7 linked regions of the Homo sapiens genome follow. The protein of the gene in region 3 purifies or fractionates together with the protein of the main gene of each other region. This does not show direct contact. Each region holds a gene or a part of one and is shown on either strand. Other genes may lie near its edges. The genes, in order: PLCG2, MYBPC3, BLNK, WDR81, PPP2R2C, SCIMP and MAP2K4.

What was found.
Region 1: the proteins of BLNK (region 3) and PLCG2 purify together in Homo sapiens (affinity purification with western blotting; one study listed by BioGRID and IntAct). This does not show direct contact.
Region 2: the proteins of BLNK (region 3) and MYBPC3 purify together in Homo sapiens (affinity purification with mass spectrometry, with the first as the bait; one study listed by BioGRID). This does not show direct contact.
Region 4: the proteins of BLNK (region 3) and WDR81 purify together in Homo sapiens (affinity purification with mass spectrometry, with the first as the bait; one study listed by BioGRID). This does not show direct contact.
Region 5: the proteins of BLNK (region 3) and PPP2R2C purify together in Homo sapiens (affinity purification with mass spectrometry, with the first as the bait; one study listed by BioGRID). This does not show direct contact.
Region 6: the proteins of BLNK (region 3) and SCIMP purify together in Homo sapiens (co-immunoprecipitation; one study listed by IntAct). This does not show direct contact.
Region 7: the proteins of BLNK (region 3) and MAP2K4 purify together in Homo sapiens (affinity purification with western blotting; one study listed by BioGRID and IntAct). This does not show direct contact.

The regions. Positions count from the first base shown.
Region 1 is NC_000016.10:81,911,258-81,915,477, forward strand, and holds part of PLCG2 (1-phosphatidylinositol 4,5-bisphosphate phosphodiesterase gamma-2), read left to right. Parts: intron 1-1,339; coding exon 1,340-1,459; intron 1,460-4,220. UniProt on the Homo sapiens protein: The production of the second messenger molecules diacylglycerol (DAG) and inositol 1,4,5-trisphosphate (IP3) is mediated by activated phosphatidylinositol-specific phospholipase C enzymes. It is a crucial enzyme in transmembrane signaling.
Region 2 is NC_000011.10:47,349,903-47,354,596, reverse strand, and holds the start of MYBPC3 (myosin-binding protein C, cardiac-type), read left to right. Parts: upstream 1-1,894; 5' UTR 1,895-1,949; coding exon 1,950-1,974; intron 1,975-3,091; coding exon 3,092-3,358; intron 3,359-3,981; coding exon 3,982-4,095; intron 4,096-4,484; coding exon 4,485-4,583; intron 4,584-4,674; coding exon 4,675-4,694. UniProt on the Homo sapiens protein: Thick filament-associated protein located in the crossbridge region of vertebrate striated muscle a bands. In vitro it binds MHC, F-actin and native thin filaments, and modifies the activity of actin-activated myosin ATPase.
Region 3 is NC_000010.11:96,191,405-96,195,624, reverse strand, and holds part of BLNK (B-cell linker protein), read left to right. Parts: intron 1-3,532; coding exon 3,533-3,652; 3' UTR 3,653-4,220. UniProt on the Homo sapiens protein: Functions as a central linker protein, downstream of the B-cell receptor (BCR), bridging the SYK kinase to a multitude of signaling pathways and regulating biological outcomes of B-cell function and development.
Region 4 is NC_000017.11:1,730,619-1,734,838, reverse strand, and holds part of WDR81 (WD repeat-containing protein 81), read right to left. Parts: intron 4,085-4,220; coding exon 3,894-4,084; intron 3,772-3,893; coding exon 3,581-3,771; intron 2,515-3,580; coding exon 2,349-2,514; intron 2,174-2,348; coding exon 2,008-2,173; intron 1,313-2,007; coding exon 623-1,312; coding exon of another isoform or gene 609-622; intron 1-608. UniProt on the Homo sapiens protein: Functions as a negative regulator of the PI3 kinase/PI3K activity associated with endosomal membranes via BECN1, a core subunit of the PI3K complex.
Region 5 is NC_000004.12:6,371,615-6,375,834, reverse strand, and holds part of PPP2R2C (protein phosphatase 2, regulatory subunit B, gamma), read left to right. Parts: coding exon 1-16; intron 17-3,134; coding exon 3,135-3,312; intron 3,313-4,220. UniProt on the Homo sapiens protein: The B regulatory subunit might modulate substrate selectivity and catalytic activity, and might also direct the localization of the catalytic enzyme to a particular subcellular compartment.
Region 6 is NC_000017.11:5,231,720-5,236,382, reverse strand, and holds the start of SCIMP (SLP adapter and CSK-interacting membrane protein), read left to right. Parts: upstream 1-1,522; 5' UTR 1,523-1,627; coding exon 1,628-1,648; exon of another isoform or gene 1,649-1,790; intron 1,791-2,440; exon of another isoform or gene 2,441-2,559; intron 2,560-4,663. UniProt on the Homo sapiens protein: Lipid tetraspanin-associated transmembrane adapter/mediator that acts as a scaffold for Src-family kinases and other signaling proteins in immune cells.
Region 7 is NC_000017.11:12,135,507-12,139,726, reverse strand, and holds part of MAP2K4 (dual specificity mitogen-activated protein kinase kinase 4), read right to left. Parts: intron 1-4,220. UniProt on the Homo sapiens protein: Dual specificity protein kinase which acts as an essential component of the MAP kinase signal transduction pathway. Essential component of the stress-activated protein kinase/c-Jun N-terminal kinase (SAP/JNK) signaling pathway.

The sequences.
Region 1 (4,220 bases), on a different chromosome or scaffold from region 3:
TTTTCCTATGGATTGCCTCTTAAAACTTGCTATTTCTTATCTTAAGAAATAACCCGAAAACAACCCAAAACCTTGTGAAACTCCTGCTGTGATCTCCGTCTTCGATTTTCTGAGACACGTGGCAATAACTGTGCCTCCCTGGGAGCCTGGCTTTTCAGGTTTGGGCTGCTTGGGTGGATGAAGATGAATCAATTTTTTGAGACAAGGTGTTGCTCTGTTGCCCAGGCTGGAGTGCAGTGGAACAATCACGTCTCGCAGCAGCCTCGAGCTCCTGGGCTCAAGTGATCCTCCCACCTCAGCCTCCTATCTGGGACTGCAGGTGTGTGCCACTGTGCCCAGCTAATTAATTAATTAATTAATTAATTAATTTTGAGACCGGGTCTCGCTCTGTCTCCCAGGCTGGAGTGCAATGGCACGATCTCAGCTCACTGCAACCTCTGCCTCCCAGGTTCAAGAGATTCTTGTGCCTCAGCCTCCTGAGTAGCTGGTATTATAGGCGCACGCCACTGGGCCTGGCTAATTTTTGTATTTCCTTTTTTTTTTTTTTTTTTTTTTTTTGGGACAGAGTCACATTCTGTTGCCTAGGCTAGAGTGCAGTGGCATGATCTCGGCTCACTGCAACCTTTGCCTCCTGGGTTCAAGTGATTCTCCTGCCTCAGCCTCCTGAGTAGCTGGGACTACAGGCGCCTGCCACCATGCCTGGCTAATTTTTTGTATTTTTAGTAGAGACAGGGTTTCACCGTGTTAGCCAGGATGATCTCGATCTCCTGACCTCATGATCCACCCGCCTCAACCTCCCAAAGTGCTGGGATTACAGGCGTGAGCCACCACGCCTGGCCCAATTTTTGTATTTTTAGTAGAGACAGAGTTTCGCCATGTTGGTCAGGCTGGTCTTGAACTCCTGGCTTCTCGCGATCCACCTGCCTTGGCCTCCCAAAGTGCTGGGATTACAGGCGTGAGCCACTGTGCCCAGGCTATTTTATTTTTTATAGAGATGGGGGTCTCATTGTGTTGGCCAGGCTGGTCTCAAACTCCTGACCCCAAGTGATCCTCCTGCCTCAGCCTCCCAAAGTGCTGGGATTTCAGGTGTGAACCACTGTGCTCGGCCCAATGTATTATTTTGGGCTTGAAACAGACCCCTGGGGTCTTCCACTATTCTTTTCACAAATTCTCTTTGCTGAGGTGCCTTTGTCTGGGGAAGCCCACTGTGTGATTTCCATGGTCGTTTCCAGGGCCAGGTTCCAGGTGTCACTGGTGCCATTATCTTGTCCTCTGCGGGTGGCCCACTGACAGCCTGGAGACCGCTCACCTGGTCGTTTTCCCTGGCCCTGTGCCGCAGGTGGTACTATGACAGCCTGAGCCGCGGAGAGGCAGAGGACATGCTGATGAGGATTCCCCGGGACGGGGCCTTCCTGATCCGGAAGCGAGAGGGGAGCGACTCCTATGCCATCACCTTCAGGTGGGTGCGAGGGTGGGAGGCACATGCTCTACAGAGGGGCTTGGCAAGGACAGATGCGGAGAGACAAGGGGGAACTTCAGGTGGAGGCTCACCTGCAGTGCCCTGCCCCCCCAGCATCAGCGACAACAACAACCACCACAGCAAAAGCCGCTGCGAGAATGTGCGCTCCTGCGTGCCAGGCACAGTCTGCGTTCTCCAGGGCAGGATGTTCTGTAGTAACTCACTTTGGCTTCCAGTAACTCTGTGGGGTTGACATGACCATGATCCGTGTTTCTCAGAGGAGGAAACTGAGGCACAGCAAGATTAAGTAACTTGCTGAAGCATGCAGCCACTAAGTGGTGGGGCTGGGATTCGAGCCCAGACAGCCCAGGCAGCCCAGGCCTGTGATGATATAGATCTGGTTTCCTCCCAACTGCAGCTGCTGCCCAACCACCTCTAGGCCTGTGGTTCTCTAATGTTACCCCAAAACGCCAGATTCTCCCACTTCCACTAATGACAAGGAGCCGAGGAGTGACTCAGACTCCGTGTAGCCTACTGTCCCTCCATCTCCCCAGCCCCAGGGTTTCCCTGCATGTTCTTACGGTGGTAACAGTCTGCTATATGTTGAGTTCCTAACCGTGTTCTAGACACTGGACTGCCTTCAAGGCCTCATCTGATTGAATCCTTTGCTACAGCCTGTGAGAGGTAGGTCTAGTTATTGCAAGGGAGGAAACAGGACCAGAGAGGTTAAGTGACCTGCCTGGAGTCACACAGCCTCATAGTCAACTGAGTTTGAGGTTCAGATGCAGGCCTGTCCGTCTCCAAAGCCTAAGCTCTTCACTCCAGAGTCTCTAGCCAGAGGCCTGGGGGCCAAATCTCCAGCCAGAGGCCTGTGGGCGTCTTTTGTACACTGATGTGAAAAACTGAGAAATTTCACTGAAAAACTCAGATTGCTTCTTGTGAAAAATGGGAGGCAGTGGATGCTCTGGGCCTGTGTTTCCACATGGGCGCGGTGGTGCTGGCTGCATGGCAGCTACTGTGGGGTGTGTGGTTTGCCCCTGTCCACTCCTCTCCCCATTCCCTCTGCCCTGATCCCATCCCCTGGTGACCCTGCCAGGCTGCCCCCTGGGCGTTTGGATTTCCCTTCCTCCTTGCCTGCACCACTATGCCTGAGCCACCTCCCTGGGGACCGTGGTGACGGTCATTATCACTATAGTTTACTGAGGACCTACTGTGTACTGGCTCCAGCCAGAGAGCAGCCTCCCACCAGCATGGCTTTTCTGTACTCTCTGTTCCCAAGAGGGTGACCTGGGCTTCTCAGCATTGGTGCCTCTGCCCTTTGCTCTTTCCCCTAAGCCTCTTAGTGGTACCTCCTCAGCCTGGATGGGGAGGAGGTGTGTTCAGTCCGCTGCACACGGATTGAAAACCTGCTGTGTGCCAGGCCCCAGGTGGGGTGTTGGCACTCCCACTGTGCTGTCATCCTGTGCAAATGATGGCAACTAAACCCAACTGGCTGAAACTGAGGTGCCCAAGCGGTGAGACAGCTCTGACACAACCGGATCGGGGCCTCACCTGATGATGGTCAGGATGCCACCTGTATGTGCATGCTGGCGTTACTCTCCATCAGCTTCTGTCTCAGGTGGCTGTACCTTGGGCTGCCAGGACAGTGTCCGGCAGAAAGGATGGCCCCCTCCCTGAGCCAGGTGGCATGATTCTGACAGGCCATCTGGGGATGGGGTTGGGGTCACTTCAATGGGACCGCGTGAATGAAGAGGTTGGGTGGGTCCTCAGGTTGATTGCCTGACTTACATACACGCCCCATTCAGTTTGTGAGCTTGTCTTCCCCATGAGATTGGAGGTGTCTTGAGAATGGAAGTTTTTATTTTTTAGAAGTTAATAGATGTTTGGTGAGCACCTACTGTGTGCCGGGCCCTGTGCTGGGCTCCAGAGATGCAGGAGTGATAAAAACAGCCCAGTCCTTGCTCTCTCAGGCTAATGGTCTGGCAGGGATGAGAGACATCGCCTTACTCCAAGTGTTTCTTGCTTTTGACCTGTTCCTGCTTATGTAACATTGGCTGGGATGTAGTTGGTGGTTGGTGAATGCTGGCTCAGTGAATCAATCAGCAAGGATGGCCGCTCCCCACCTCACCCCATGGCCCACTGTCAGGGAAGCTCAGTCCACACAGTGTTTCTCAAAGAGTTGGGGTGTGAGGACTGATCCTGTTGTATTTGGATGTTGAACTTCCCTGGTCTCTACCCACTGCATGTCTGTCTGGGACCCTAAGTCATTGTAACAATCAAAAATAACATCCCTGCCCCAGGACACACACTTTTTCAAACCCTCTCTGGTCAGGGTATGGGGTGAAGCGTCACTGTCCTTCACTGAGAAGCACTGAGGAGGTTTGAGCACATAAGGAAATCAGTGTAGTATTTTGTGATGAGTGCTACAAAGGGATTGGTCAGGCAGGGTGGTGGAGGGTGAGTAGCTCTCCAGGGAAACGGATGGGGAATTTGGACCAGGCAGTAGGGGAACACAGGTCTGCAGCAACTTCTCCTTGCCCTCTACATATTTGTAAAGTGCCTCTCCTGTGCCAGGCACTGTTCTGGGCTCTGGGGATGTGTAATGAACTTCTGGATAGATTTCCCCAGTAGAGGAGAAACACCTGCTTTCAAATCCACAAAGGAAGTGTTGAGTTGTTGCCCGGCTGTGATTGGTGGAAGGCATCTCTTGGGCAGTGAAGCTGAGACCTCAGGCTGTGGCCGTGGCATCCACGCTCCAGGA
Region 2 (4,694 bases), on a different chromosome or scaffold from region 3:
GCCTTGATGAGGTTTGAACTCATGATGATGATGATGATGATGATGATGACCATGACCAGCAACAACATTTGATATTCTGGTCAATTAGTATCTGCCAACCTTGAGATGTGGAGTCTAATATCACTCCATTTTATAGAATGGGAAACTGAGGCTTGTAGAGGTCAAATTATTTCCCCAAGGTCACAGCCGTTGAGTGGCCAAGTTGGATCACACTCCAGGTCTGTCCCGACACGTCAACATGGAGTGGGAGGCCTTGCTTATCTGGAAGAGGATACTCTTCAGCATTCCGAGGACAGGAATTAAGCCCCAAAGCTCCTGTGGGCCGCAAAGGGTTCTCACGAGCTGCACGCCCAGCAGGACTTTAGACCCAAGTGAATCCCTGGTGGGACCCCCAGGTTCTATTTGCTTTCTAGCTCCTAGCCACAGCAGGGGAGAAACAGACCAAGCTGAGCGGAGAAGCCTGTAAGTCCTGTGTTTTCCTCCAGACGGTAGCAAGTAGTGGCAGTAGACAGCCTGGGAGTGAGGGACTTCCCAACGCTGTCAAAGACCTTAGGGAACCCAGATTCTGGGGCCATTATCGTAGGGACAAATACCCGCCCCACACCTCCTCAACCCCAGAGGGCTCACTGCAGCCCAACCCTGCAGCTCCCTAGTCCTACTGCAGGGCCACAAGAGAAGGCAAAATGGTGTTGTGTCTTCATTCTTCTATTTTTATTTTTTTTTTTTTGAGACAGGGTCTTACTTTGTTGCCCAGGCTGGAGTGCAGTGGCACGAACATGGCTCACTGCAGCCCTGACCCCCCGGGCTCAAGTGATTCTCCTGCCTCAGCCTCCCGAGCATCTGGGACTACAGGTGTGCGTCACATGCCTGACTGATTTTTGTATTTTTTGTACAGATGGGGTTTCATCATGTTGCCCAGGCTGGTCTCGAACTCCTGAGCTCAAGTGATCTGCCCGCCTCAGCCTCCCAAAGTGCTGGGATTACAGGTGTGAGCCACTTCGCCCAGCCCATTTTTATTTTTTTATTATTATTCTTTGAGATATTAATAATAAAAAATAATAATAAATAATATTTTTATTATTATTATCACTCTGTCACCCAGGCTGCAGTGCAGTGGTGCGATTTTGGCTCACTGCAGCCCGGAACTCCTTGGACTCAAGCGATCCTCCCACCTCAGCCTCCTGGGTAGCTGATACTACAGGTCCACACCACCACACCTGGCTAATTTGTGTGTGTGTGTGTATTTATTTTATTTTTTATTTTTTTAGTAGAGATGGGGTTTTGCCATGTTGCCCAGGCTGGTCTCAAACTCCTGGCCTCAAATAATCTGCCTGCCTCGGCCTCCCAAAGTGCTGGGATTACAGATGAGCCACCACACCCGGCCTAACATTTTTAAAATTATAAACCCACTTCATACGTGTGACAATCCTGTGCAGTGGGTGCTGCTTTCACCCACCCCGCTTTACAGATGAGGAAACCAGGTGCTTTGAGATTAAAGAGATGGCAGTGCTAGGACTCAGAGACACCCTGGCCCCAGGGTCTGTGGACATGACCACTGCCTGAACTGCCTGCGAGGATGCTCCTGACCCGTTAGCCTTAGGGTTATGGGCCCAGCATGCTCCCACCGTACAATTTGCTGTAAGAGGGACACACACGGGGCTTGGAGTACCCCTGAGGCTTGCCAAAGGTTGGGGAGGCAGAATTGTGCTGCGGGGGGTGAGGGGGGAAGGGACAGGAGCCAGCCAGGGACAATGTGGCCCTACCTTCTCCCTGGAGAGACCTCAGCTCTCTGGAATTCATCTATATTTAGCAGGTGGCTGGACAGGAGGCAGATAAGCAGAGCCTGGGGAGGGGGGAGGTCCCCATATATAGTGGGAAGGACAGGACCCCACTCAGTCCCTCTTTGGGTGACCTGTGCCTGCTTCGTGCCTGGTGTGACGTCTCTCAGGATGCCTGAGCCGGGGAAGAAGCCAGGTAGCTTTAGGACTGGGGTTGGGTCTAAGTGTGGGAGCAGGGGGGTGTCTACAATTGGGGAGCAGGGCTAGGAGGGAGTTCTTGAGGGGGTTGACGAGGACGTGGCCTCTGAGCCCCAGGACAGGGGCAGCCAGTCCTCCAGGGTCCTTTTTTGATTCTCGGTTTCTTTTTCCCATCCCTCTGATGAGAGGTGAAGGTAAACCCAAGGTCAGGGACGCAGAGAGGGGACACAGCCAAGACAGGAAGCACCCGGGGTCAACCCATTCTGAGAATGCAAAGGGACCCCTTCCCTGTCCCATTGCCTTCACCTTCCACAGCAAGGTTCCCCGCGGACAGAGCCCACGTTTAGTATGGAGCTGAGCCAGGCTCACGGCATGCCTTCAGACCAGTCTCTACCCACTATGGGTCTCAGTCTCCCAACCTGGGGTGCCGGGGGTGGTGGTGGCATTGGGTTGGTTCCTCCTGGCTGTGACATTATCTGCTTCATGAGCCTGTACGGTGTGGCCCCCATGTTGAGGGTGACACAGCCCCTCTTCTCTGAGAGAGGACAGTCAGGAGCCCCTGAACCCAGGCCAAGGGCAGGGAAAATCACAGCCCAGGGACCTGGGCCTGGGCTGTGCCCTTATGAAGGTTGTCCAGGGCAGAGATCCAGGTCCCCATCCCCCAGCGCCCTCCCAGGCCAGCTTTATCTCAGTTGCTGATACCCAGCCTGAGGTCCTTGGAGGACAAATTTGGCCACATTCCAAGTAGGCAGACTTCCCCGCCCCCTGCCAAGGGCCCGAAATGGTTGGGGGAAAGGGAGCTGGGTTCATCACGGGTGTCTCCAAGCAGGGAAAGTGGACACATGCAGAAAAAGTCTTGTTGGGAGGTCAGGACCACAGCCCTGGCTCTCCCGACTGCTAGCTGTGTGATCTTGGAGGAGCCGCTTAGCTTCTCTGAGCCTCAGTGTCCTCCTCTGAGAAATGAACAGAATAACTGCAACTACCTCAGAGAACTGGTAGAGTATTACGTGAGGGGATGCATAGAAAGTGCTAGCACAGTATTTACTGAGAGGGGCTGCAGGGGCGGGGTGCACGCTCCAACCAGGGGCCGCTGTAGCCTCCACCTGGCCCTTCAGTCTCAGCTTTTAGCAAGAAGCCACGGTCAGTGGAAGTGGCCGCAGGCAGCCCTGCCGTGTTCGAGGCCGAGACAGAGCGGGCAGGAGTGAAGGTGCGCTGGCAGCGCGGAGGCAGTGACATCAGCGCCAGCAACAAGTACGGCCTGGCCACAGAGGGCACACGGCATACGCTGACAGTGCGGGAAGTGGGCCCTGCCGACCAGGGATCTTACGCAGTCATTGCTGGCTCCTCCAAGGTCAAGTTCGACCTCAAGGTCATAGAGGCAGGTAAGATCCTGATCAGCCTTCCCTGAGGTTTGGGCTGCTGGGGGAGGGGCAGCCCAGCGACTCTCCATCCATCCAGGGAACAGGAGGTGCTTTCACACTTTCTTGCCTTTGCTGTGGCTGTGCCCCCCGCCAGGAACGCCCTTTCCCCCTTTTCTGCACATGACCTCTCTGAGTACCCCCATGTGCCATCCTGGCTTGTTCCAGCCATGGGGTAGGTGGGAGAGATGAACAAGACACAACCCCACTCTCCCCCTGCAGACCTCCCTGGGGAGATGACCCTGCACAGACGGCCGGGAAGCCCCAGGAGCTGTGGATGAGGGGAGTGCAGCCCAGTCTGAGGGGCTGCTCTAAGGCTGGGGCAGAGCAGGGATGGACCTGGAGCTGTTCAGGGCAGATGCAGAGGACATGGGAACTGATGGCCTGGGACGGGGAGGAGAATGTGAGAGGCAGGCTGGCTCTCCAGCTCAGCATGAGCTGCCTCTGAGGGGCCCAGGCAGCGGGAGGACAGCCATGGCAGACTTTCCTCATCCACAGCGGGCTCATGGGTCCAATGCTCAGGAGAGAGAGGGTGGAGGGGTCTCTGGTTAGTGGCTGCACCACGACTCCCATCTGATCCCCTCCAGAGAAGGCAGAGCCCATGCTGGCCCCTGCCCCTGCCCCTGCTGAGGCCACTGGAGCCCCTGGAGAAGCCCCGGCCCCAGCCGCTGAGCTGGGAGAAAGTGCCCCAAGTCCCAAAGGTGAGAGGGGCTGGGCAGGGAGGGGCAGGATCCGTGGGTAGGGCGTGTCCAGGGCAGGTCTCAAAAGCCTTTGCTGGGCCAGGTGCGGTGGCTCAGGCCTATAATCCCCAGTACTTTGGGAGGCCGAGGTGGGCGGATCATGAGGTCAGGAGATTGAGACCATCCTGGCTAACATGATGAAACCCCATCTCTACTAAAAATACAAAAAAATTAGCCGGGCGTGGTGGCGGGCACCTGCGGTCCCAGCTAACTTGGGAGGCTGAGGCAGGAGAATGGTGTGAACCTGGGAGGCGGAGCTTGCAGTGAGCCGAGATTGTGCCTCTGCACTCCAGCCTGGGTGACAGAGCAAGACTCCATCTCAAACAAACAGAAAAAGCCTTTGCTCACAGGGTCAAGCTCAGCAGCTCTCAATGGTCCTACCCCTGGAGCCCCCGATGACCCCATTGGCCTCTTCGTGATGCGGCCACAGGATGGCGAGGTGACCGTGGGTGAGTGTGAGCTGCTGTGCCCAGCATTGGGGTGGGAAGGGGGGGCAGCAGGACACTCCCCAAGCCGGGCCTGTCGCCCCTGCCTTTGCAGGTGGCAGCATCACCTTCTCA
Region 3 (4,220 bases):
TATTTTTATGAATTTGAATATTTTAGATACCTCATACAAGTGGAATCACACAGTATTTGTCCTTTAGGACCAGCTTATTTAACTTAGCATGATGTCCTTGAGACTCATCCATGTTGTAGCATGTGTTAGGATTTCCTTCCTTTTTAAGGCTGCATAGTATCTCATTGTATCTATATACCACATTTTGTGTGTCTAACATCCATCAGTGGACATTTGTGTTGCTTCTACCTCTTGGCTATTGTGAATAGTGCTGCTATAAACACGGGTGTGCAAATCTCTCCAGGACACTGCTTTCAATTATTTGGGGGTATATACCCAGAAGTGGGATTGCTGGATGATATGGGTATTCTATTTTTAATTTTTTGAGAACCTCCCATACTTTTTTCCATAGCAGTTGCACCATTTTACAGTTCCACCAACAGCACACGAGGGTTTAACTTCTTCACATCCCCACCAGCACTTGTTATATTCTGAATTGTGTTGTTGTTTTATAGTAGCCGTCCAAATGGGTGTAAGGTGATAGACAGCTCATTGTGGTTTTAATTTGCATTTCTCTGGCCGGGCGCGGTGGCTCACGCCTGTAATCCCAGCACTTTGGGAGGCCGAGACGGGCGGATCACGAGGTCAGGAGATCGAGACCATCCTGGCTAACACGGTGAAACCCCGTCTCTACTAAAAATACAAAAATTAGCCGGGCATGGTGGCGCGTGCCTGTAGTCCCAGCTACACAGGAGGCTGAGGCAGGAGAATGGCGTGAACCCGGGAGGCGGAGCTTGCAGTGAGTCGAGATCGCGCCACTGCACTCCAGCCTGGGCGACAGAGCGAGACTCCGTCTCAAAAAAAAAAAAAAAAAAAATTTGCATTTCTCTGATGATTAGTGATGTTGAACATTTTTCATATGCTTTTTTGGCTACTTGTAAGTCATTTTCAGAGAAATGTCTATTCCATTTTATAATCAGGTTATTTGATTTTTGTTGTTGCTGAGTTTTAGGAGTTCTTTATGTTTCTGGATATTAACCCCTTATCAGATAAATGATTTGCAAATATTTTTCCCACTCCATAGGTTACCTTTCCACTCTGTTGATTGTGTTATTTGCTGAGCAAAAGCTTTTAAGCTTGATATTGTCTTCTCTATTTTTGCTTTTTTTGCCTATGCTTTTAATGTCATATCCAAAAAATCATTGCCAAATCCAGTGTCATGGTGTTTCCCCCCTACATTTTCTTCTAGAATTTTTATATTGGGGAATTTTATTTTGCTTTTAACAAAGTCTCAGATAATTTTAAAATGCAAAACTCTTGAATCTAAGGGCACTAATCAAGACCAATCTTTGGTTTTAAAATGTAGACCGCATTATCATTTAACATCCTAAAGCTTCTCCAGCAGTCTAGCTTTTCTATAAGAGGCTTAAGGGTGGGTGAAGAAGCTGTCCTATTTCGAGGTCCTGAAATTCTCTCACAAATTTTGAACTCCCTGAGGGGCTCTGGATTTCGTTGTCCTGCTAGGAAACTCTGGTAAACAGGAATTCCTCTTGGCCTGATGAATCTTCATCTCCACTTTAGAATGAATAGACTAGAGCTTCACCTCACTTCCAACATATTCAGCCTATGGATTCCAAAATAAGTAATATATTACTATAATAGCATCTGGAGGTACTGACAGTCAATTAAAACTCTTACTTAAAGTATCTATAATAAAAAGATTATGTCCCCTATACACTGAACATCTGAATGGAAAATTAAAGTGTTGGTTACATGATGTCAATCATGTGGAGTTTTTCTGAAAGTCTGTGTGTATTTGTGTGTACATGGCTAGAAAAAGTAACCAATTCATTAACTATTTAACTGTTTATGCAGCTATTTTGGCACTGTGTGATACAACATTGAGTAATTTTACAGTTTTGACAACTGTCTGCTTTATCTTAGTGGCCAATACGTTGTTTTTCTGTCCACAAATACACTGAATGTATCTGTCTCAAATACACTGAATTAATAAAAACAGAAAAAAAGGAGAGTGAGGGGAAGCTGTAACTATGTTATGCCCAATTCTTTTTTAAATTAAATCACAAATATTCTTCAACTTCATTCCCTACTTCAAATGTTTCAACTCAGCTCAACTCCCTACTGCACACACTTCAATCCCCGAACACCACAACAAGGCAATACTCACAAATATTCAGGGACTAGAGGGACGGAATGAGATATTTGTTTGTATAAGTACAGCAATCCTCTCCTATGCTTCCTAGGTTCAGGACACACTTTTTCCCTTGTAATCCACTTCAAAGAGATTGTGCTATTTCGTTTTCTGGCCCTTGAGTCCATAACTTTAACTTTCAACTGCATTTGGTTTAGCAACATATTATGCCAAACAAGCAGAATGAATGTTTAATGGGATTTATAATGAAAGAATTTCTTTGGCAATTGCAAGATGGCTGAATGATTGAATAGGAAGTAAAGAATAAAGACTAAAGGTATTTGAAAGTCCCTGTCTCTTACCTCTCTCCCTGACTGAATATTCAGCTAGCCAATTATCTAAAAGACAACTGGTATTTCATTTGGAAATGTTGGCCAATATTCTGAATATTTTACTTTATTCAATATGTAGCTACTTGGAAGTCATCCAAACAATTAATAAACACTTAAAAATTTTACTGTGGATGTTTGTCTTTATCTAAAAAATCGAGAAAATAAAATCAATTGATAGTAACTGCTAAACTCATGGCACTGTTGTAAAACAATCACCACTTTTAAAAAGTGATTCTAAATACATTTAATGAGTGTGAACTTGTAGCACTTTTGTATACTCAATGAATTTAATTTCATGATCTGTGTTACATTTGTTTTTATCTTTCCTTCAAAACTTTAATTATTTTTCAGAACAAAATTTGTGATAATTTTAAATTAAAACCCATAGACAACAAGGATCAAAATTTGGAAAAATAAGTATGTATGGAGAGAGCCTAGCATGAAATTTCATTATTAATTAGGCACTAAGTTAACTCTAAGCTTACCAGGAACCAAGTAAAAATGGAAATATGAAGGTTTATAAAGCTTTCTTTATTTGTTTAAAAAAGAAAACAAAACATAATTTTGTTTAGGAGATGACTATTTCCTTGTACTAAATTTCTAAGGTTAATTTATTACATCAATTCTTGTATCTGAGACTTGTGCAAAGTAAGAGATGATCTATGTTTTGTAAAGAATGTAGAAAAATGCGTTGTATGATAGTTTTACATTTAACGGTAAATAAAAAGCAATATACTATAATATTTTATCATAACTCAGTGAAGTAATCTCTCTAAGTAGCTATGCTAATTGAGGCTGTCAGTGTGTTTTTCTTCGTACTTAATACAGCAAAGTCCAAGGTCTGCCACCTTGAAGGTTACAGCCTTTGTTAAACTAGATTTTTTTGTGCAGAATGTCAGCTGGGGTGTAATAACTTTTACTAACTTGAGAATGAGAGAAGATGGGAGGAGTGGAGCTCAAATTTAACACAAATGCCAAAGTATAATTCATCTATGTTTTCTTCCTCTAGTACTTTGGAAGTGTTGCTGAAATCATCAGGAATCATCAACATAGTCCTTTGGTTCTTATTGACAGTCAGAATAACACAAAAGATTCCACCAGACTGAAGTATGCAGTTAAAGTTTCATAAAGGGGGAAAAAAAAGATCAATACCATTGCTTCAGACACTTTCCCAAAGTTTCTCCTTTTGAGAAAAAGTCCCAAAACTTCATATTTTGGATTATGAATCATCCAGTAATAAAATGGAAGATGGAGTCAGCTATTGAAGTGGTCATCCATTTCTTTTTAAGAAGCTCATGTGGACTTGTTCTATTGCCTGACCTGATGAACTGTTAATATCTGGTGAGGTTGAGTTATCATGCTACTAATATTTTCCAAATAAATATTTTTATTTTTAAAAATAAGTGTAAAGTATATTATCAAAATAAGAAAATAATGCTCTTGCATAAAACAAAGTGGCTGGAAATTTAAACCTCCACAATGATCATTGGTACACTAATGTAGCTGGGCTCTCCACTGCCAATGCTTGACAATTAAGTCTTGGTTAAAATTTTAATTTGTAGAAAATAAGGTATTAAAGGTAATGTATGATATCTGTAAGTATAGGCAAGAAGGATGTAATGGTTCCTTTTTGTGAGCACTCTCAACCATGGGATATATATATATATGGATATGAACTTTCTATAAGTTCTTGTCTA
Region 4 (4,220 bases), on a different chromosome or scaffold from region 3:
TATCTGCTACACATGAAGCCAAAACCCTACATGTGTTATCTTCTTCTTTTTTTTTTTTTTGAGACAGAGTCTCGCTCTGTTGCCCGGGCTGGAGTGCAGTGGTGCGATCTCGGCTCACGGCAACCTCTGCCACCTGAGTTTGAGAGATTCTCCTGCCTCAGCCTCCTGTGTAGTTGGGAGTACAGGCACCCGCCACCACGCCCGGCTAATTTTTGTATTTTTAGTAGAGACGGGGTTTCACCATGTTAGCCAGGATGATCTCGATCTCCTGACCTCGTGATCCACCCGCCTCAGCCTCCCAAAGTGCTGGGATTACAGGCGTGAGCCACTGCGCCCGGCTGTGTGTTATCTTCTACGCCAGTTTTTCTGATTCTCAGTTTATAGATGGGAAAGGAGACGCTTCCAGCAGCAGGAACTTGCTCAAGGTCACTCAGCAAGTAAGCCGGTGGAGCCAATTCAGACTCAAGTCTAACAGATTCGAAGCCCTAACTGTTCTCCTAGGCGGCCTCGCTGGGTCTCCCCAAACTCCGCAGCATTACAGCCCCACCCTCGGGCCCCCTTCCTGGAGGCCTGGTGGGGCGCAGGAGCAGGAAGAGAACAGGCCTCACCTGGGCCCGCTCACCTGTGAAGGGGTCCCAGACGTGCACAGCCCCGTCACAGCTCACCACGTGCTGCGGGGCCTCAAGCTGGCCCACGAAGAAGACGCTCTTGCGGTGCTGGGTGTAGACGAGGCGTGGGGCCGTCTCGCTGGTCCCGTCGCCGTAGTTGTACAGCGGCCAGAGGCGCACGGTACGATCCTTGCTGCCGCTCAGGAAGAAGTCCTCGCTGCTTAGGGGTGCCACGCACTTGACGGCCCCCGAGTGGCCCGGGAAGCTCTGCAGGCGGATCTGGTGGAAGTGAAAGTGGGCATCCTGCTGGCTCACGCCGATCTCGTACTGCCAGTACGCCAGCCAGTTTCCGCTCAGCCCGTGCACGCTCCGCGGCAGCTCCTGCTTCAGGGCGTTGTCGTCGCTCCCGCTGCCCAGGCCCCCGCCACCCACCCCCGAGATGGGGCCCAGTGGTCCGGGGTTCTCAGGCCGAGAGTCATTGGGGATCTGAATGCGGTTCCCCACCAGGACGCTCCCAAAGGTCCCTGAGTGGCCGTCATCCTGAGGGCAGCCCCCACCATGGGGGTCCCACTCGGGCCCGGTGCCGGGCATGGTGGGCTCCACGCTGGCAGGGTTGCGACTGCTGGGGCTGATGCTCTCCAAGTACAGCGCCGCCAGCTCCCCAACCAGCTCGTGGTTGGGGATGATTTTCCGGATGATGTCACCTGGATAGGAGTGGGAGAGGTCCTGAGACAGGGAAGATGGCAGGCGGCTGCTATCACCCATCCAAGGACTCGGGAGCCACAGAAGATGGGGCAGGAACTGGCTCTGCAACTCTGGGCAAGTAACTCTGTCTCTGAGCCTCAGTTTCCTCCTCAGTGAAATGTGGATTCATTCCGTTGTGATGTACACATGAGCATCTTCTATATGTGCCGTGCCGTGCTGGGCACTAGGAATAGAATATGGAACAAGACAGGTGGTGCCCTGGCCTCCCAAGCTTAGATTTCAGTGGCAGGATGATAACAGGTGTAACCACAAGGCTGTCTGTCCTCTCCAGGGAGATGACACGCTGAAACGATCAGCACAGCACCGTGCAGGGCCCAGAGGGGAAGCTTCGTAAACAGGAGGCCACTCCTTCCCTCTCGCCAGCTCCTGCGGACCGCCAGTCCACCTCCCTGACTCTCCTGCCTTCCCCAGGGACACTACAGGCCAGCTTCTGGGCCTCTCTTGCTGGCTACTGCTCAGTCCTTGTTTGTGTGTCACCTTGGGGGTAGGGGTCTGAGGCCAAATCCCTTTGCTCTCACCCATCCTGCTGGCTCTTAGAACCCACTGCTGACTCTGGGGCAAGGGCAGAGAATGGGGCCTCCCAAGGGAGGAGACAGCCACGAAGACTGTGATGGGGAACGTGATGGGGCAGTACCCAACAGGCAGGAGAAGGGCACGTAGATTGTGTATGCCATCTCCAGGGTGAACACCTTCTGCAGCTCGTCCAGCAGGGCGGGGTCCACGGGCCGCTGCTGCCCATCAGAGAAGACCACCTGTGGCAGCTGGCCCTCACCACGGCCCGCAGGGTCCAGCTTCAGATCCTATGAGCAAGACACCCAGGGGGTCAGCCGGGTCCACAGCTCCCACCCTGGCCCACCCTGGTCCTCGCCACGGCCCGCGGAGTCCAGCTTCAGATCCTATGAGCAAGATGCCCAGGGGGTCACCCAGGTCCACAGCCCCCGCCCCAGCCCGCCCTGGCCCAGCAGATCTGCCCACCTGTTGCCGAAGCTCATGCAGCTGAGAGAAGACCTGGAAAAAGGTGGCCACGGGCTCGCTCAGGTGCTGCTGGACCATCTCCTGTCCAATGCGCAGGCAGATGAGGGCGATGAGGCTGATGGTTTTCACACACAGGATGGTCCGAGCCTGGGCCCCACTTGGGAACCTGGAAACAGAGCTCATGAGCTCCAGCCCGCCGTTCTGCAGGACTTGACCAGAATCTAGCAAAATCTTTATTTATTTTTATTTTTATTGAGATGGAGTCTTGCTCTGTCATCCAGGCTGGAGTGCAGTGGTGCGATCTCGGCTCACTGCAACCTCTGCCTCCCGGGTTCAAGCGATTCTCCTGCCTCAGTCTCCCGAGTAGCTGGGACTACAGGCATGAGCCACCATACCCGGCTAATTTTTTTTGTATTTTTAGTAGAGACAGGGTTTTGCCATATTGGCCAGGCTGGTCTCGAACTCCTGACCTCAAGCGATCCACCCACCTTGGCCTCCCAAAGTGCTGGGATTACAGGCATGAGCCACAGCACCCAGCATATATATATACTTTTTTTTTTTTTTGAGACAGAGTCTTGCTCTGTCGCCTAGGCTGCAGTACAATGGCGTGATCTCAGCTCACTGCAACCTCCGCTTCCTGGGTTCAAGCAATTCTCCCGCCTCAGCCTCCTGAGAACCTGGGATTGCAGCCTCCCGAGAACCTGGGATTGCAGGCACCTGCTGCCATGCCCAGCGAAGATTTTGTATTTTTAGTGGAGACGGGGTTTCACCATGTTGGCCAGGTGGGTCTCAAACTCCTGACCTCGTGATCCACCCGCCTTGGCCCCCCAAAGTGCTGGGATTACAGGGGTGAGACACCACGCTCGGCCTTTATATATATTTTTAGAGAGGGGGTCTCATTTTGTTGCCCAGGCTGGTCTTGAACTCCTGGGCTCAAGCAATCTTCCCGCCTCAGCCTCTCAAAGTGCTGGGATTACAGGCATGAGCCACCGTGCCCGGACATATCAAAAGCTTTAAATGAAAGAGCTCCAAGACCAACTGGTCCAAACCAGATGAGGAAACTGAGGCACAGGAAAAGGGTGTGGTTTGCTCAGGGTCACACAGCCGGGATCAAAACCAGGACTCTTGACACCCAGTCCAGTGTTACGTCCTCTCCCCTGAGCTTCCCACCCCCTCCTGGGCAGCCCCTCCGCTGGGCCGGTCCCCCTACATCAGCTGGGGCAGAGGCCTACCCCGTGACGAGGGAGGTGAGGAAGCTGAGCACGGGCAGCAGGACCTCATGGCTGATCCGGGGCAGGATGTCCATGAGTGTGGTGTCTGAGAGGTACACGATGATCTTCTGAGTCAGCGTCACCGCGGCCAGCAGCCCCGCCTCCTTACGGCTGTTCAGTCGGCTGGGGCCTGAGGCACTCCCTGGGGCCACCTAGAGCCACCGAGCAGATGAGGGCCGGGCAGCCCCACAGACCCCCTGGCACCAAGAGAGCCCGGGCCGGCCCTCAGGTCCTCAGCCTTCCCAGCCCCGGGCCTGCCAAACCAGCGACTGACCAGGTAGCTGATGTAGGGCAGGTACTGGTAGGTGAGGACAGGCTCCCCATACAGGCGGGCGATGTGGAGGAGGCAGCTGAGCACAGGCCCTGACACGATGTCGCCCAGGACCGGCCTCTTCTGGTAGATGTTGCCGGCGCTCAGCGGTGGGCTCTCGCCACTGCTCACTGTGAACTGCTGCCGAGTGGGTCCTGCCACGGAAGGGCCAGCAGCCCTGAGTCGCCAGTGGAGGGCCGGGGGTAGCCTGGCCCTGCAGGGCTGTGCTGGCCGCTTGAGCTCACTCTAGCTGGGGGCCCAGCCTGGCCCTACCCAAGGCTGGCACTTAGA
Region 5 (4,220 bases), on a different chromosome or scaffold from region 3:
GGTGACGTCACTGCAGGTGAGCTCCGGTGAGGGGGAAGCAGGCACACGCCTCTTTATTACACCTGAGGATTTTAGGGCTGGAAAAGCCTTTGAGATTTGAGCCAGAGTCAGGTGCAGACCCTGGTTGGGCTGCTGGCTGCTGGGCGGCCACGGGCGTCTTCCTGCCCCTTGCCTCAGTTTCCTCACCAGCAGCATACAGATGACCACGTTTCTTCTAGGCTTCTTGTGAGCATGCAGGGGTGGTGTATGGCTGTAAAGTGCTTTTCACCTATAGCTGAGGGTGGAGAGCAAGGCAGATAATCCCTTGTTATAAGAAGGGGGAAACTGAGGCCCAGAGAGAGACAGCAACTCACCTAAAACTGCTCAGCTGAGTGAGTAGGCAGAGGCAGAAAGAGAATGGGTCAGCAGAGCTTTGTGGCTCCTGAGTCCTTTACTGAGGGCAGAAGGAAGCCTGGACCGTGTGAGGCCTTCAGCATCTACAAAGGCCTGAAACAGACATACCCTGAAACAGACACACACGTGCCCAGCATCCAGTGAGCCGCCATAAATATAAAGCAGTAGTCAGTGCTCTTCCTGAGAAGAAGAAATAAATGTTTAAATACATTGGCCTAAATGACTGGCAAATTGCACAAATAAATTCTGAGGAAGTGGGCAGCCGATTAGCTTCGATGTTGAGTAATGAGGGTGCTGGTGCCCCCTGCCCCACCCCCCGTCCCAAGAAAGTTTATGAGGGTTTCATCTAGAGGGAAGGATACAGCGATCACATCTTGATCACCCTGGTGTTTGGGGCAGAGCCAGTGGCCTTCATAAAAATCCTGTTTATGTCCCTCCCAGCGTTGGAGATTTTTCTCTGTAAGTCACACACATCCCAAGACACTTAACTGTCACTGAGAACCTGGGTGCCCTGGTCTGTCCTCATCCTGCCTCTCACCTTGTTTGCTTCCGATTTCACCCACGCCACGCCAACCCTGCACAGCATTCTACCCACCCTGCGCAGTTCACACTGGAGGCAGCTGTTTACTGAGGAGCTGCTCCACGCTAGGCCCCGGGCTAGCCCTTGGGGCCCTAGAGGTGAGCAAGGTTCAACTCAGTACCTGTCCCCAAAGTGTCCCCAGCCCCCAAGGAAACAGACATGGAATCGCCATCACACTGGCGCTCAGTGCGGTGACAGAGGAACACAGAGAGGCCGTGGGCACCCCAGGAGGCCTTTCTCTACTTTGTCAATTTGGTGAACTCCCATACATCCCATAAAACCCTACTGGCCTTCACCTCTGTAAAGCCTTTCTGCGCAGGCCAGATGACAATTGTGATCTTTCCTGTGTCCCCTCTTGCCTTTTGGATCCGACACTGTCTGTCCTTAGTGTCTGTATCTTCCTTGCCCCTCATCTTGACTAGACTGTGGCTTCTGCGGAGGCAGCATGTTTTACTCATGAAACCCCCAAACCTTCAGGGAAGGTTTCCTTTCTCTCTTCTTCTCTTTACTAAAAAACTGGTTTTGAGCTCTGGTTTGGTGGATGGCAGCAAATGGCTGGAGCACTGGATGAACTGGGTCCCAAGGCCGCCTGGAGAAAACAGAAAGCAATGTTGCCGGAAGGAAGCAGGAGGTGGACTGAGATGCCAAGACTTTGCTGGGCCAGTGATGCTCTGCCCTTCTCCAGAGCAGCTGGGCTCCCTCTCTCTCCTGAGAGTCCAGGGATCCCCAGGGTGGGCAGTGGCTGCACCCCGAAGGAAGGGAAGGTTAGCAGCATAGCTAAAATATCTGACACAGGAATACGTGCAGGGAGGATGCCTTGGAGGAGTCACACTAACACCAACTCCCAGGCACACAACCTAGAAGCAAAGACACAGAGGCAACAATGCAAGAACCACCCAGAGCCAGGCTGTCACTCACACCGGTGCTGCGTGCACACACACACACACACACACACACACATGCATGCACATACACGTATACTCAGTCATGCATGCACACTCACATGCACACTCATATGCACACACTCATACATGAACTCTCAGCCATGCACACTCCCACACACACAGGCTGGGTGCCCTGGTGTGTGGGAAAATTTAACGTGGGCTGCAGAGCTGCCTCTGCTCCAAAGGAGCTCAGTGCTTGTCACTCCGACTGCAGCACCGAGGCTGTCACCTCCCATCTCAGCTGTTCCCTGAGAGCTCAGGGACACAGCCCATTCATTCATTCTCTCACACATTCACTCATTCACTGGAGAGTCTCTCTGCTAGGCCTTGGACTGAGCGCTAGAGAGATGGAGAGATAAACAAGAGGTGACGCCTTGCTCCCGTAGCTGATCCCTAGTCCACTGGGAAAGCTGATGGGACCAGTTGACAGCCTCAGGGTTGGTCAGGGCTGTGCAAGGGACCTTCAGGGCTGTGAAAGCTCAGTGTCTGATGCCATGGCAAGGACTCCTCGCACCAACTGTCTGAGATGAAAGTTCGTATGAGTCAGGCTAACTCCACCGCTGTAACAAAACAACACCAGCAGTCCAGGGCCGAGCACGGAAATGCATTTCTCACTATGGGAAGGTTCGATGTGGATGTGCTGGTTGGGACACAGCTCTCCTGCAGGATCCTTCCATCCCCATCCCATGAGTCTCAGTCCCTAAGGCTTGGGTCCTCACCTTCCAGGTGGGGAAGGTGCTCCCGCTGCTTAGCTGCATCAGGGCCAGGTATCACTTTGCTCACATCCCATTGGTCAGAACTAGTCATGTGGCCATGTCTGGGCACAAAGGCTGCTGGGAAATGTAGTCCACATGTAGACAGCTGTTTCCCAGTGACAGCACTGCATTGCAGGAGGAGGTGAGGAGGCCTGGCAGACAATTGGCTGGCTCTGCCACAGTATCTTTTTGTTTCATTTTAGAGTTGAGGAAATTGGGGTATAGGAGGGTTCAGCCACTTATTCACAGACCCACAGCAGGTAAGCATCCATGCCTCTCTTGCAGGGCTGGTGGGCGGCGGGCATTTGCCATCTGTCACTGCCTATTTCAGACCACGGAGGATCAGGATGGACGCCCACCCCTGTGTTCCAGCCTCCGGTTGGGATCACATGCTCACGGCATGCTATGTCCTGATGCCACCACCTGGCCTTCACCTCTTCCCTGCCTCCTCATCCTCTGCAGGTGCCAGTGCTGAAGCCCATGGATCTGATGGTGGAGGTGAGCCCTCGGAGGATCTTTGCCAATGGCCACACCTACCACATCAACTCCATCTCCGTCAACAGTGACTGCGAGACCTACATGTCGGCGGATGACCTGCGCATCAACCTCTGGCACCTGGCCATCACCGACAGGAGCTTCAGTATCCTTCACTGTGGCCTGGCCAGTGCCTCCCACGGGCAGAGTAGCTTCCGTTGGGTGGTGGGTTTGGTTTGATTGGCAGACAGCTGGTTTGGGGATGGCTGCATTGTTTAACTTCTTCAGTGAGGCACCTCTGGCTCCTAGTATGCGTGTGAGGCCCAGATACAAAATCATGTCACGTCTGTTTCTGAAAACCGCAAAGTCGTGGTTGCTGAGCATTGCACCCATCGCCTCCTCCAGCATGGCCATGATCCCCTCATCCTAGGGCCTCACAAGGGGCCAGGAAGGAGACAGAGTTCAGGGTTCAGCTGCTCTGGACGAGGGACTGCTGGCCTTGCTCAGCGTCCACTGAAGGCGCCTCGGGGCCCTCCCCACTGGGACCCAAGGCAGGCTGTGTTAGCATAGGAGGACCAGCACTGGGGCCCCGGCCAGGGCTTCGGGTGACAACCAGGGTGTCAGAAGCCCAGCTGGGTTGGGGTCCTGAGGGCCCCCTGCTCGGTGTTCTCCTGTGTCAGGGCAAGCTAGGGGAAGCAGCAGCATTGACGATTCCCGCCGACTGCTGGGAAGAGAGCTGGTGATGACATGAGCACCAGCCTGCAGGCAGGGCGAGGCTTGGCCTGCCGGGGGGCTGGTGGGCGGGCAGGCAGGTTGCTGTGATGTCACTATTCTGCATACAACCAATGATAATAATAATTATAATAACACACAGTGAGACTCTGTGTGCCAGGCTCTGTGACTAACATCAACAAGCATTCATTTTAACTCATTTCACCTTCACAACAACCCTATGAGGTAGGTACTATTCTAAGTCTCCTTTACAGATGAGGAAACTGAGTCACAGAGCACTCAAGTTAACTTGCTCAAAGCTCACAGCCAGCAAGTGTCAAAGCTGGGCCTGAAACCCAGGCC
Region 6 (4,663 bases), on a different chromosome or scaffold from region 3:
CTAAACTTTGGATGAGCCTAAGAAGAAAGAGTTCAGGCCTTGGCCAGGTGCAGTGGCTCAACTCTGTAATCCCAGCACTTTGGGAGGCCGAGGCAGGTGGATCACTTGAGGTCAGGAGTTCGAGACCAGCCTGGCCAACATGGTGAAACCCTGTCTCTACTAAAAATACAAAGATTAGCCGGATGCGGTGGCACACACCTGTAGTCCCAGCTACTTGGGAGGCTGAGGCAGGAGAATTGCTTGAACCTGGGAGTCGGAGGTTGCAGTGTGCTGAGATTGAGCCACTGCACTCCAGCCTGGCGACAGAGTGAGACTGCATCTCAAAAAAAAAAAAAAAAAAGAAAGAAAGAAAGAAAAAGAAAAAAGAAATTAGTAAACACTGCAAATCAGGAATCTTCTGAGCCAGATGTTTTGTTTTGTTTGTTTGAGATAGAGTCTTGCTCTGTTGCCCAGGCTGGAGCGCAATGGTGTGATCTTGGCTCACTGCAACCTCCACCTCGCGGGTCCAAGCAATTCTCCCGCCTCAGCCTCCTGAGTAGCTGGGACTACCGGTTCACACCAAAATGCCCAGCTAATTTTTGTATTTTTAGTAGAGATGGGGTTTCACCATGTTGGCCAGGCTGGTCTCGAACTACTGACTTCAGGTGATCCACCCGCCTTGGCCTCCCAAAGTGCTGGGATTACAGGTGTGAGCCACCGCACCCAGCCAGAGCCCGGTGTTTGTTAAATTTACCAGACATATATCAGACATTATCAGATATTTATCAGACATATCTGGTTATCATTATTACTGAAATGGATAACAACTCATTCGCTCTGGGCAAATACAATGCACATCCGTTTGCCTATTTTTACTAATGTGACTGCTCATTTGAGTCAGAACCAGCCAATTCAACAAAATGGCTAATTGGTTTCCCCACTCCAACCCCCATGGTCAGAGGCCGTGGGCCTCGCTGGGAGTTCTGTCTCACAGTATTGCACGAGGGGACCCAACTCAGTCAAAATGCTCCACTGGCCACATTTCTCAAGGTCGCCACTCACACGCCTTTAGAAACAGGAAGCCTGTCCCTTGCCTCCTCCAAGCAGAAGATGTCTCAGCAGTTCCAAGGTGCACAGGAGCTTTCAAGAGTCACCTTCATGGTGAGATGGTGAGTTTGTCACACATGAGCTGGTTTCTTACCTGGATCTGTCTCTGCATGGGAGCTGGCGTCCTGTCGCTCTTCTTGAGACTGAGGTTGCCACATCCAGGAATGCTCACGGCAAACTCGTCTGTGGGGACACCAAACCCACCCCCACTGCCAAGTCTCCACCCTGGCCCCTGGCCCCTGCCAGGACCCCCTACCACACCATGAGGGTCCTCTGGTAGGCCTTGCGGGAGCGACACGGGGCAGTGAGAAGATTCTGGCTTCTGGACAGCCGTGGGTCATGAGCTTCCCTGGAAAAGGGATGGTTGCCTAGAGATGACGCCAGGGTCTCTGCCCCGTGGGCTGACTAGAAAGGGGAAGTGGTCAGGATGGGGCTCACTGTCTCTAGCAGTGGGTGAAGGCCTGTGAGTGAGGAATGCCTCTCACCAGCTGTGCCTGAGCTGCAGCACTCCAGCCACTGCTGTCTCCTTAGCTGCTCACATATGGATACTTTCACAGTTCAGGTAAGCATCTCAGCTTTCCAAGGGACAGTTTCCTGCTCTCTTCACAGCAGACATCTGCCAGCGCTGGCATCAGGGCGTGTCCCTGGGAGCCACCGATCAGCACTGGGCCAGGGGATTGCAGCCTGGGGCCCTGGTACGACTGCTGTGTAGGGTTGGAGAAAAACTTGCATTGAAGGATCTGCTCTACTGGTAACTGGCTGAGTGACCTGAGGCATCACTTCACCTCTCTGGGCCTTTTCCTCATGTGTATGTCAGGGGCGATGAAGAAGTCTACCTCTTGGATTGAAATGAGATAATGACCGGGAGTGAGAGGTCTCAACTGTAACGAGTTACTCTCACTTTCTGGATGCCGATGGTGTGTTTTGGGACTTGTTATGTGAGAAGACTGTCATGGTGCTATGCTGGAGGTGGGGGTGGGAGCGAGGCACTGACTGTGTCAATTTATTTATTTTTATTTTATTTTGAGATGGAGTTTCGCTCTTGTCGCCCAGGCTGGAGTGCAGTGACGTGATCTCGGCTCACTGCAACCACCGCCTCCCGGGTTCAAGCGATTCTCCTGCCTCAGCCTCCTGAGTAGCTGGGATTACAGGCACCCGCCACCACACCTGGCTAATTTCTGTATTTTTAGTAGAGACGGAGTTTCACCATGTTGGCCAGGCTGCTCTCGAACTCCTGACCTCAGGTGATCCGCCCGCCTCGGCCTCCCAAAGTGCTGGGATTACCGTAGCATGAATTTAGGCTACGTCTTGGGGCTCTTGGATGAAAGACCTGGATCACCTCCAGTCTTGGTACCTTTGTCATTGCATCTCTGGCTTTCAGTAGTTCATTAGGCACCTTCCCTTCCAGAGGCCTCGAGATCAAAGTGTGTTGGGCTGGCGTGAGTTCTCGGTGTAGCCATCTGCTTTTGCCCTCTGGAAAATTATTTTGAGAAGAGATCTGGGTTTGGCTTTGCCATATCCACTCCCACTGCCTGGTGTGTCCACTTGTCCCTGAGGTCTTGGCCATGAAGCAATGTGGAGCACAGGCTTCACTCTGCTTCAGTGGTAAATAACTACTGAGAGGCAGGCGGGGCATGGTGGCTCACGCCTCTAATCCCAGCACTTTGGGAGGCCAAGGTGGGCAGATCACAAGGTCAAGAGATCAAGACCAGCCTGGCCAACATGGTGAAACCCTGTCTCTACTACAAATACAAAAATTAGCTGGGCATGGTGGTGGGCGCCTATAGCCCCAGCTACTCGGGAAGCTGAGGCAGGAGAATCGTTTGAGCCCGGGAGGTGGAGGTTGCAGTGAGCCAAGATTATGTCACTGCACTCCAGCCTGGTGACAGAGCAAGACTCCATCTCAAAAACAAACAAACAAACTACTGAGAGGCTTAAAGCAAGGAAGGGACAGGGTCACACTGGTATTTGGCAGCCAGTGGGGAGCCCAGTGGGGGCTAGGGGCCAGCGAAAATGCAATGGTCCAGGTACAGAGATGAGGACTTGGACTACATTTGGAGGCTGATGGGCTGAAGCGGGGTGGGGATGGGGCCATGGGAGAAAGAGGAATGAGGCAAGGTTTCCGGTCTTTTCCAGAAGTGAAAGTATAGAGAAGGGAAGAAGAGAGGCTGGACTCCTTTTAATGACCCTGCCGTGCACTTCCCCATGCACACTTGGGTTTTAAGTTGCCAGTGACTATCCACATGGCCATTTCTGGTGCTGACATCAGTGAGAAGGACAAGTGGAGCGAGGCTCAGTGGCTCACGCCTGTAATCCCAGCACTTTGGGAGGCCGAGGCAGGTGGATCACTTGAGGTCAGGAGTTTGAGACCAGCCAGGCCAACATGGCAAAACCCCATCTCTACTAAAAATACACAAAAATTAGCCGGGTATGGTGGTGCGTGTCGGTAATCCCAGCTACTCAGGAGGCTGACACAGGAGAATAGCTTGAACCAGGAAGTAGAGGTTGCAGTGAGCTGAGATTGCACCAGTGGAGTCTAGCCTGGGTGACAGAGCAAGACGCCATCTCAAAAAAAAAAAAAGAAGAAGAACGAGTGGGAACAAGGCCTCACTTAGCATGAACAGCAACAGTCGGGGAATTAGAGGTGAACTGGGGCAAGAACTGCTCATGCCAACCGGCCTAAATGTTCTCTACAGCCTCTCAGACCCTCGAGATCTAGACTGAGATTAGTTCGAACCCTCATTCCAGGCCTGCCGAAGTCCAAAGCCCTCCCCAGGACTTCTGTGGACTCCCGAGGAGCCCACCTCTTTTTCCATGGTCAGCAATGGGCCTGCAGCCTCTGTGGGTAAAACTGTTTACACTGCGCTGTTTACACTGCACTGTTTGCACTGTTTATACTGTTTATACTGCACTGTTTATACTGCACTGTTTACACTGCACTGTTTATATTCCACCCCTTTCTTAGTCCCCCACACCCCTAGAACAAATCTGCTCACAAAAGAATTGGCAGATGCAGCAGACTTTACCAAAGACTCAGCGGGGGACCACCAGAGGGGCTTGTAACGCATCAGCGCAAACAACTGCACACAGAACATAACACGGCGCTGCTCTGAAAATGTCTTTGCCAGCCCATCCCTGAGCATTTTCTATCAGCTCCTCCTCTTGATACCAAATGAGGCCCATTCTGCTCATCGCACAGTAAGCCAATCACTGAGGTGACCAGTTTTTTTTTTTTGTTTTTGAGACGGAGTCTCGCTCTGTCGCCCAGGCTGGAGTGCAGTGGCGCAATCTCGGCTCACTGCAAGCTCCGCCTCCCGGGTTCACGCCATTCTCCTGCCTCAGCCTCCCGAGTAGCTGGGACTACAGGCGCCTGCCACCATGCCTGGCTAATTTTTTGTATTTTTTAAGTAGAGACAGGGTTTCATTGTGTTAGCCAGGATGGTCTTGATCTCCTGACCTCGTGATCCGCCCGCCTCAGCCTCCCAAAGTGCTGGGATTACAGGCGTGAGCCACCGCGTCCCGCCAAGATGACCAGTTTTGCAGCACAGAATGCATTTATTCATGAGGCAGCCAAGTG
Region 7 (4,220 bases), on a different chromosome or scaffold from region 3:
AAGTAACAACGCAGACAGCCTGCTAAACACAGTAAAAGCACATACAAAAAATTGTGAGTCTATAATCTGAAGATTTATCTCTAGGATAGTCAGTGTAGGATGATTAGTTAAAAATTAGAAAAAATATTAATTCTTGAAAATTGACTAAATTATGGCATAGCTACACAGAATACTACAGTTAAATATATAAATGTTTTATAAGTATAAAATTATTTGTGTACATATATGCTTTTCTAAATGTAAATAAATAAGTAGACAGATATTTATGCAGATACTACCCAAGAGAAACCAGCAATCAAGTAATTCTGGGAGATAAATTACATATACATTTTTATCAATTTATCCTTAAGTTTTAAAAAAGTTTATACTCTGTATCTCAATATGTTCTTTGGTCCAAAAGTTTAAAACAATATAACTTCACTGAAGACTACATCAGTATATAAAAATGTCTGCTCTGTTGACATTTTCTCCTTGAATTCTACCTTGCCTAATTAAAGCTGCCAAAAGTATTTTCATTTTGTTTATATTTACCTCATCTATCTTGGCCCATATCTTAATCACCATTCCCTTCCAACCTCAATTAATATTTTACTATCAAACATGAATTAATATGGGTAACATAGTTCACCTCTTTCTAAACTCATTGCTGTTTTCCATATCCCACACCTTCTGTAACAGATACTGCAATGTGCTATGTAGATTCCCTCTTTAAGAAGGAAGGACTTATTCTTCCACTGTGGGGCAAGCCGCCAGCAGACAACCCTTTACTATCGGCCTCTTCAGGATTACCACAGCTAAAGACAGCCACCTTAGCCCTCCTGGGACAGTCCATCTCTAATGACTGATCCACAAAAGTGAATAAAAATCCAAGACCCTCATTCCAAGGCAGGTCAACACAGAGTTGGCTGAGGCCTTCAATGACATGGCACTGCAACTGAACTTCTTCTGCCCAATCTCGTTTCCTTCTCATTGGTAGTGTTGATCCCAAGATCACTACCTAGTCAACTTCCTACACTCTTATCTCTGTCTCAAAAGCCTGCTTTCCAGGCATCCAACCTGTGACATCCTTCTTCTGGGTTAACTTCTCTTCTTGGTCAAGTACAGATGGCCCTTGAGCAACACAGATTTCAACTGTACAAATCCACTTATACATGGATTTTTCTTCTGCCTCTGCCACCCGAGATAGCAAGACCAACTCCTCCTCTTCCTCAGTCTATTCAATGTGAAGACAAGGATGAAGATCTTTATGATGATCCACTTCCACTTCATAAATAATATATTTTCTCTTCCTTATGATTTTCTTAATAACATTTTCTTTTCTCTAGCTTACTTCATTGTAATAATACAGTATATAATACATATACAAAATATATGTTAACTATGTTATCAGTAAGGCTTCTGGTTGACAGTAGGCTATTTGTTAGTAGTCAAGTTTTGGGGTAATCAAAAGTTATATGCGGATTTTTGACTGTACAGGGGGTCAGCATCCCTAACCTCCACACCATTCAAGGATCAAAGCAGTCTATAAATTGTAAGTGCTCAGTCTTCCCATTCCTAAAACTGTATTTCTTCCTTACTGTGAATATTTGAGTGTCTGAGTCTAAAACTTTAGGACCAGGCTGACAATTATTTTCCCTCAGCACTCTGGTGCTGTGACTCCACTTTTTCCTGCAACTATTGTGGCTGGGAACAAATCTGCTGTTAGTCTTATTATCAATCCTTAACAGATAATCTGTTTTCTCTTCCTGATATTGCTCGGTAATTTTGCTTCAATACATAAATGATGATAAACAAAGGTATAAATTTAAAGGTAAATTTAAATATAAATTTAAAAGGTAAATTTATACCTTTGTTTATCATTTATGCACTGAAGCAAAACTACAGAATATCAATTAAAATTTACTTTTAAATTTATATTTAAATTTACCTTTAAGCTTATACCTTTGTTTATCCTACATGATAAAGAGACTTCACTTTCAATCTGAAAACCTATACTAAATCAGTTCTCAAATGTTTTCTTTCCCCTATGATCTCTGTAAACATTGCTTCTCCACTTTCAGAGTTGCCTTCTTTATTTCCATTACATGCATCTTAGAACCTCTAACTCTGCAATCTGTTCTGATTCTTCACTGCTTTTCATATAATCTGTGCCATGCTGGGGGAACGTCTCAGCTCCTATTTCCCTAATTTTGTCTTCAATTATTTCCAGTCTAGAGAACATCAAGTCTGTTGTGTCTTTTATATCAACAGCTATGATTTTTCCATTTCCAAGACTTCTATTTCCAACCACTTTATTTCTTCCTCAGTTTTAATTGAATTTATACCTTTATTTCCTTGAGCATCCTAAATATACTGATTTTCTTTTACAGCATATTTCAGACAATTTCATAAATCTATTTCAACTTAAAGTAAGTTTCTGTTCCATTTTGTTAAATGCTTTCTTAGCATTACACTTCAGTATTCAAGAATTATGATTTGCAGACTCATTTTGAAATAACATGTTTACCCTCCATGCATATCCATTCATTTGTTCAACATATGTCTGAGTGCCCCACTAATCACTATGAACTGAACTGGGAGCCAGGGATACACACATAGAGCAGTTTTACAGTTGCCTCTATTTCACAGGGCCACCAGTATCAAACAGGGTCCTGTAATGGACCTTTCAAGTTCCACTCCTATGTTGGTATTAGGACAATTACAGTTCCAGTCCTCTGGTTGCAAAACCAGTATCTAAAGCCTTGTCATTGTGTAGTACCATAGCTTGCTTAAAGCTGTGGCCCAGGAAGTAACTGATATCATTTTTTTCATTCTCCAGAATGAAAAATGACCTGGAATACAGCAAGTCCATGGCATCAGATCTACACAGCATTCTGTCAGTATTTTTGTTGCATTTTTTCACCCACACAGAGGTTTGCTTTCTTTGTAAAGCTGCCATACCTTTCTGGTTTTGTGTTTTTCTATTTCATCTACTGGAGCAGAAAATTATGTCAGTGTATAAACTTATGATGCTATTTGGGTTGAAATCTTAAACTATTAACATTGACTGTCTTCTTTTTCTGAATTACAGCTGACACTAATAATGTTATCAATAATTATATTAGCTCCCCTTAGACTATCTAATAAGGTAGCCGTTAGCAAACTTAATTCCAATAAAAAATGCATTTCCTTAGTTACATTAGCCACATTTCAAATGCCAGCAGCTACCACACTAGACAGAGCAGATTATAGGACATTTCCAGCATCTCAAAAAGTTTTATTGGGAGAGCTTCAGCTCTGTCTTCTAGTTCATTAATCTCTCTTCAATGATATCTAATCTGTTGAATGCAGCTATTGTTTTAATTTATGCTTTTTATTTCTAGAAGTTCTATTTGGTTCTTTATAAATGTGTTCCCTGCTTATATTTCTAAGCTGCCTCTTTTTCTTTAAACTTATTTTTTGTTTCCTTTCATTCCAATATTTGAAGCCTTTGCAGATCTATTCCTACTATCCATTGTTTCTGATTCTCATTTCTTTTGTGAGTGTTGAGATTTTTTTGTGGACTACATATTCCACTTGACTTTATTTTTTGGAATCATTTAGTCCTAGGCTGAATGATTTGCTTTTGCTTCTGCCCATCAACTGGGGGCAAGAGGAGCATATCTTTCCAACCAGGGACTCTGAAAAGTAATTTTTCTTAAAATTAAATTCTCTAAGTATTTTTACCATATTCAATATGAATTTAGATGGCAAATCTACATTTGCTTGGGTTATCCTTTAATTTACTTTGACTCTTCCTTCTCTCCCATAATCTCCCTCCCTGAATTTCAGTCAACTTCAGAGCTCCATGGATTCCTCAGTTTTGCACCAACTCTTTTACATTTTAAGAGGGACTTTAGGTGGGGCACGATGGTTCACCCCTGTAATGCCAGAACTTTGGGAGGCTGAGGCAGGCGGATCACCTGAGGTCAGGAGTTCGAGACTAGCCTGGCCAACGTGGCAAAACCCTGTCTGTACTAAAAATACAAAAATTAGCTGGGAGTGGTGGTGCGTGCCTGTAGTCCCAGCTACTCAGGAGGCTGAGACAGGAGAATCACTTGAACCTGGGAGGTGGAGGCTGCAGTGAGCCAAGATCATGCCACTGCACTCCAGCCTGTGCGACAGAGCCAGACTCTGTCCTAAATAAATAAATGGCACTTTAAAATGCTTATCCAGGCCAGGTACAGTGGCTCACGCCACTG